Linked DNA regions of Homo sapiens: region 2 is linked to region 1. Evidence: fine-mapped expression QTL. Tissue or cell type: lymphoblastoid cells. Region 1 holds a variant in brackets; the other region holds the start of a gene. All regions are shown on one strand. Distances are from middle to middle.

Region 1 (2,500 bases):
ATGTGCTGTAATCACAAGAGGAGAAAATAACTTGTTTCCTTGATCTGTCAGAGGTCACAGTAACCTGGGCCGAGCTGTTATTATTTATTATATAATAGTAGTAGGAAGTTAATAACTGGTTCTCTGTGTTCCAAGCACAATATTACAACTTCTTTTGAACCGTAAATATCAGAATGAATCCTCTTCCCAGGGGATTGAACAGAAGCTTAATGTTTACAAGTGTTTGAATTTGTGATCTGAAATAACACAAAATTAAAAACATGATTTCTCTAATTTTCCAACTAGAGGAAGAGAAACTTGTGGAAAAGTTCTTTTTTTTTCTTTTTTTTTTCTTAAAGAAGGGCAGCCAAGGTAGTAACCTAAAAATAGTGCCCAGGCATATGAGAGTTGTCCTACGAGGTTAAAGAACACACTGTTCCACTGTATGGCTTTGGCCCTGAGTGGCCAGGGAGGTCAACTTGACCCTGCCATGTTGGTTTGACTTACTAAGACACAGGAATCACTGTTTTCCTTGACCAGGGTCTCACACCCTGGAGGAATGTTAAGTAAGAGAAAGAACCTCTTTCCTGAATATTGACATGTAAAAGACCAAAGTAATTTTTCTGAACTTCTGCAATTCTGAGAACTCTCCAAGGAATTTACAGTGATTTTAGTGCTTGTCAGCATTTTTCCATGAGGACTTTCATACATTTGACTCTTTAGTTCACAGGTTCCCATTGATTGTGAGCAAGATATTTATCTCTTTAGCCCTTGGGGATCCAGCTGAGAGCAATCTCTTGCATTTTTTTACCCGTGTATGTACAGATATCATTTCTTGTGTATGCCATGACTTGAAAAAGTTTGGGAAGCTCTTTAGCAATATCAGCTAAAAGGATATGAAATCACAGGTGATAGCAGTTGTCATTCAGTAATTTCCTACAAGCAGCACCCCAAAGGAAATATAGTCCTAATCTTTACTATCCACTTCTAAATTTAATGTGAATTTCATACATGTTATTAGTTGTTTTCTTTATAATTTTATAAAAATTATTCATCGGGAGTTTAACTTCCACTTCCATGCTATCGGATGTGTTGGGCTCCATGCAAGAACTTGGAAGAAAAACAGGCAGGAATGCATTTGCATAATGACCCAGATCATCATTTTCTGCAACTGAGAATTATATTTCATCATTGCTTCTAGAAGTCTGCAATTCTTTACTTTTCTTTGGTGCATTATTATCTAGGTGCCATCACTGGATAATGTGGAGTGACTAGAGAAGTCA[C/T]ATATCACTGTAAGGTACAGTTAGGGTAACACTTTAGAGGTTTATTATTTTTAAAAAACTTTTCTTGAACTCCTGGCCAACATGGTGAAACCCCGTCTCTACTAAAAATACCAAAATTAGCCAGGCGTGATGGTGGGCGCCTGTAATCTCAGCTACTTGGGAGGCTGAAGCAGGAGAACTGCCTGAACCCAGGAGGCAGAGGTTGCGGTGAGTCGAGATCGTGCTACTACTGCCTGGGTGGCAAGGGTGAGACTCCATCTCAAAAAAGAAACAAAAAAACCCAAAAAGTTTTCTTTACTGTTGGTTAAAAAAAAAAGCCAGACCATAGTTTGACTGGTGGCATGGAATTTGTGTATCAAATAAATGCATTTGCTTATTTGACAAACCATCAGTGTCCACTATTTGTTACCAGAGTTGGGCCACTATCTTTTAAAATTGCTGGTGAAAACTTGCCACTAGATGGCAGTGCCTGTATAGATGGGGAAAAAATTGCCACCATTCTTGGTATAATACAGTGTAGCTTAGATGAGGTGGTGAAATAGGGGTATCAGCCGAATATTCCTAATATAGTTTCTCTTGAATTAATAAACTGAAGATTTGTAGGAAAATGAGTGAGCAAAATTTGTTTACTGTTGTGAATTTTTCCTACAGCACTGTTTTTAATCTTGATGTTTTCCAACTTTCTGTACTAATAGATACATTTCTGTGCATAAGATTATAAAGCATATACTCACAGTTCAGTAGTTTTCGTTAAGGATTTACTGTGTGAGTACTTTACTGTGAGGAATTGCAGAACCTTTTCCCCTCTACTCTTGTCTAAAAGTTCTGTGTGGCACACAGAGATGCGACCTACTCAATCTGACTTAGTAAAACCATGCTGTAGAATTTTTGTCTTAAAAAGACCACATACCCAGCACCCATGAAATAAAAGATTCATCTGTAATTGGGATTCAAAGTGATTAAATTCCTTTGTTCATACTCATAAATAGCACTAAAGTGTTATAACATTTTCATTTACCTATTTTTAGTTCCTTCATTTTAACTTAATAAAAATCTTGGATTGATATTCTTTTTTTTTTTTTTTTTTTTTTGAGACAGCGTCTCGCTCTGTCACCCAGGCTGGAGTACAGTGGCTCTATCTTGGCTCACTGCGAGCTCCGCCTCCCAGGTTCACGCCATTCTCCTGCCTCAGCCTGCCGAGTAGCTGGGACTACAGGCGCCCGCCACCACACCCGGCT
Region 2 (3,032 bases), 420 kb after region 1:
CTGGATGCTTTGATACAGGCTGCATTGCAGAATTTCAGTGCTACCATACAGTCTCTACAAAAGGAGTTTTCCATACTTTGACTACGTAATTGGAACCATTTTTCATCTCAAAGGAATTTTTATTACCATTTAATAACATAGCTATTCTAGGTATTATTTTCACAGTATTTTTTCTTCCAAAATTATCTTTAATTCCTAAGAGATTTTTTGCACAAATTATAGAAAATAAGCATCCTTAAATTTCAGGACTCCAGACACTTTTTACTCAGTACGTTTTGCCTTGGAACACTGGGATTTGTGAAATTATCCTTCCTCTGCTTTATTTGAAGCTGAGGCTGAGTAAAGAACAGAAAGAAAACCCATAGAGATTTGCCTTACATTTATCTCTTTTTTAAAAGTTACCTTTTTCTCCTGATGTTATCTGTCTTAGACACGGGGCTCAGATCCCTATATTGGTGGTCAATATGTCCCATTCTGCATCCCTATGGCCAGCCTGACCCCTCATTCAACAAGTTCACACTACTCAACTCCACTTTTCAACCAGGCAAAACAAATGTTCTTCCCTCATCCCCAAGTTCTCAGAGCAAAGGAAATGCTGAAAGATTGCAAACTCTTTTTTGTAGTTATTTTGGAAGGGAGCACTTTCCTACCATCTCTTAACTCCTCTGATTTTTACTTAAGAAAAATCATAATGCTCTTTTGTCCTGTCAGCTCCTAAGCATCTACTGCCTCCTTGTAAGAGGTCTTTTCTGAATAACAATGCAGGGAACATTATTTGCCATTTGCACCAAGATCCTGCTCTTTGTGGTTACACATTCTGAAGTGCCAATCATCTCTAAGGCAATTAGAGCCGTTAAGACTTCCAGCTGCAGAGGAAAAGAAATCAAAGCATTCTCCAGAGCACCTTCGAACGGCGTCTCCCAAAGCCCGCGCAGAGCAGGGGCAGCTTACCTGTGCGGCATGCCTGTGGTGCAGACGGTGGTGTGCTCGCTGGACAGGTCGCAGAGCTTTAGGTACCAGTTCATCTCCACTTCGCGCAGCAGAGCCAGTTGACGCGCCCTGAGCTGGCTTTCCCCTGAGGGACTAAGGCTGCTGTCTTTAGCGTTTTCTGAGGCTTTCTTGGGAGATTTGTCTTTCCCTGCTACAGAAAACCCAGACTGTCTCCTTAACTTGGTGTTCTCCTCTGAGATCTGACTCCCCGCTGCCCCTGTCCGGGCTGCCAGCATCGTGGAGATCTTTCAGAGAAGACTGGAAGTCACTGTCATCAAAGTAATCTGAATTGATTTTTCTGCTTCTGCCTCCCTCCCTCGTCCCTGCCCACTCCACCTCTCTTAACCTTATCCTGCCACAAAGCTGTAATTGAGCCCAGTCTGTGGCTTGGGATGAAAATGTATCTCTAACCTTTCCTAGTGAAGAGGTAAGCTGGCCAATACCTGTGGTATCTTCGAACACGGAAATTTTAAAAACAACTCCCAACAACTTTGTAATACTGAAGTTTGGCAGTGGCTGTTTCTTCCGCAAAGTTAGGACTTTTGCTTTATTTAATAGTGACAACTCTGAACTTTTGGTCATATAGGTTTGGTAAATTACATTCGATAATCATGTTAGAGTTATAAAAGATTTCTGGAGGCTCATTAGCCATTCCTGATTAGAGTCCCTTTGGAGTTTTAAAAGTTTTAATGTGAATTTCCTCAAATAAGTTCAACAGTATCAATGCAAGGGAAAGATTATTTCTCTTGTGCAAACCTGAACATTTTAAATTTATTTTATATTTCTTTGAATGTCAGTGAACCACATAACGTATGTCAGGCACTCTTTCATTCCTAATGTGAGAATGGTAATCCCTCATAACCGATTCAGTAACTGCCCCTCCCAGCACTTCTGACAAATAGAAGCCATGAGAATCATCTGATAATTGGGAAGGTGAAGGCCAAAACTGGTGTGAAAAAACAGAAGAGTGGGAGGGAATGGTGGGAGCCTGTATGTGCATGGATGTGTATGTGTGTGCCCAGTGTACATGAAAACTAGTTTGGGAGAAACAAAGAAAGCCAAGCTGATGGCCCTATGGTTAAGATGCATGGGGTTGACCCACACACACCCATGGATCTCACTCTGTTTTAGTTTAGGAGATAATGATGTCAGTGTCCACCTAGGGGTCTATCACAGAGTTGTTTAGTGACCCGTTAAGCACCAGGCACCCTCCCCCTCAATCAACTTAAGTCTCTTCTGGATCAACTATCTCAGTGCCTGCTGCATGTAAAGAACTTGGGAAGGTGCATGTATTTTTCTTTCCATGACAAAACCGTAAGTTAAAAATTGTAGAGTTATAGCAAGTCCTTAGAGTCCCTGAGAAGAGCAGGAGAGGAAGGAGGAAAGAAGCATGCCTTCTTAAAGAGATAGGAAAGTGCAGTTAGCTCTTTTGGAAAGTCTGTCAATAGGCTGTCATAAGGCCTCCTCTGCCACCACGGTATGGAGGAAGAATTTCCTTCACTGCTATTCTCATCCCTTTACTATCTGAACTAATGTGGTCACCTCGGTCACATGGCTTGGTAACAAGTCATCTACTGCTGTCTTGGATTATCTTGCTTCCTTTAATGTACGCCTTGCCCCCTTTCACTTGCCCTTAGTCCACTGTCACTCTCAAAGACCTGCCAAAGGTCTTTGAGGATCCCTATGGCTGTTAATTAACCAATATCAATATTAACCAATTAACAGCCATGTGGGCTCTTGCACATTTGGGTGAAACCTGTTTGATATTACTGTCCAGGATAGTCTAGGGTTAGAACTGTAACCACCAAGTAATGTGCAGCCTGAAGCATGTATCAAAGGAGGCAACTGATACCAACTAGCAGGGTCAGTCCCATCTGATGCTGTGGGGTCTTAGGAACTTTTAGCACCAGCAGGCGACAGCCTCTTCAACTACTCTCTTTGCTCCCATCCCTTGAGTCATTGAGGAGTTCTGGCAACATTATATGCATAGCAACTAGACTCCCCGAAGTGTAGACTGGAGATAATCACCCCAGTTTAATATT

Which allele goes with the higher level. Positions count from the first base shown, and alleles are read on the strand shown. Sizes are in standard deviations (SD) of each study's normalised expression.
For the expression in lymphoblastoid cells of the gene that starts at base 1,260 in region 2, T is the high allele of the variant in region 1 and C is the other (small effect, 0.30 SD a copy in GEUVADIS).

What was found. PIP is the estimated chance that this variant, and not a neighbour inherited with it, causes the effect. A credible set is the group of variants that fine-mapping cannot tell apart.
Region 2: it holds the start of KCNAB1, and the variant in region 1 is the best candidate, but not a certain one, in a credible set for the expression of KCNAB1 in lymphoblastoid cells (GEUVADIS, PIP 0.54).

Annotation. Positions count from the first base shown.
Region 1 is chr3:156,540,459-156,542,958 of GRCh38, reverse strand. It overlaps SSR3 (signal sequence receptor subunit 3), which reads left to right. Exons shown (of 5, transcript NM_007107.5): 5 at 1-2,500. Among named protein-coding and RNA genes, the nearest start is that of SSR3, 13 kb to the left of the region's middle. The variant C/T (reference allele first, on the strand shown) is at 1,263.
Region 2 is chr3:156,118,806-156,121,837 of GRCh38, reverse strand. It overlaps KCNAB1 (potassium voltage-gated channel subfamily A regulatory beta subunit 1), which reads right to left and starts at 1,260. Exons shown (of 14, transcript NM_172160.3): 1 at 952-1,260. The coding sequence starts at 1,226.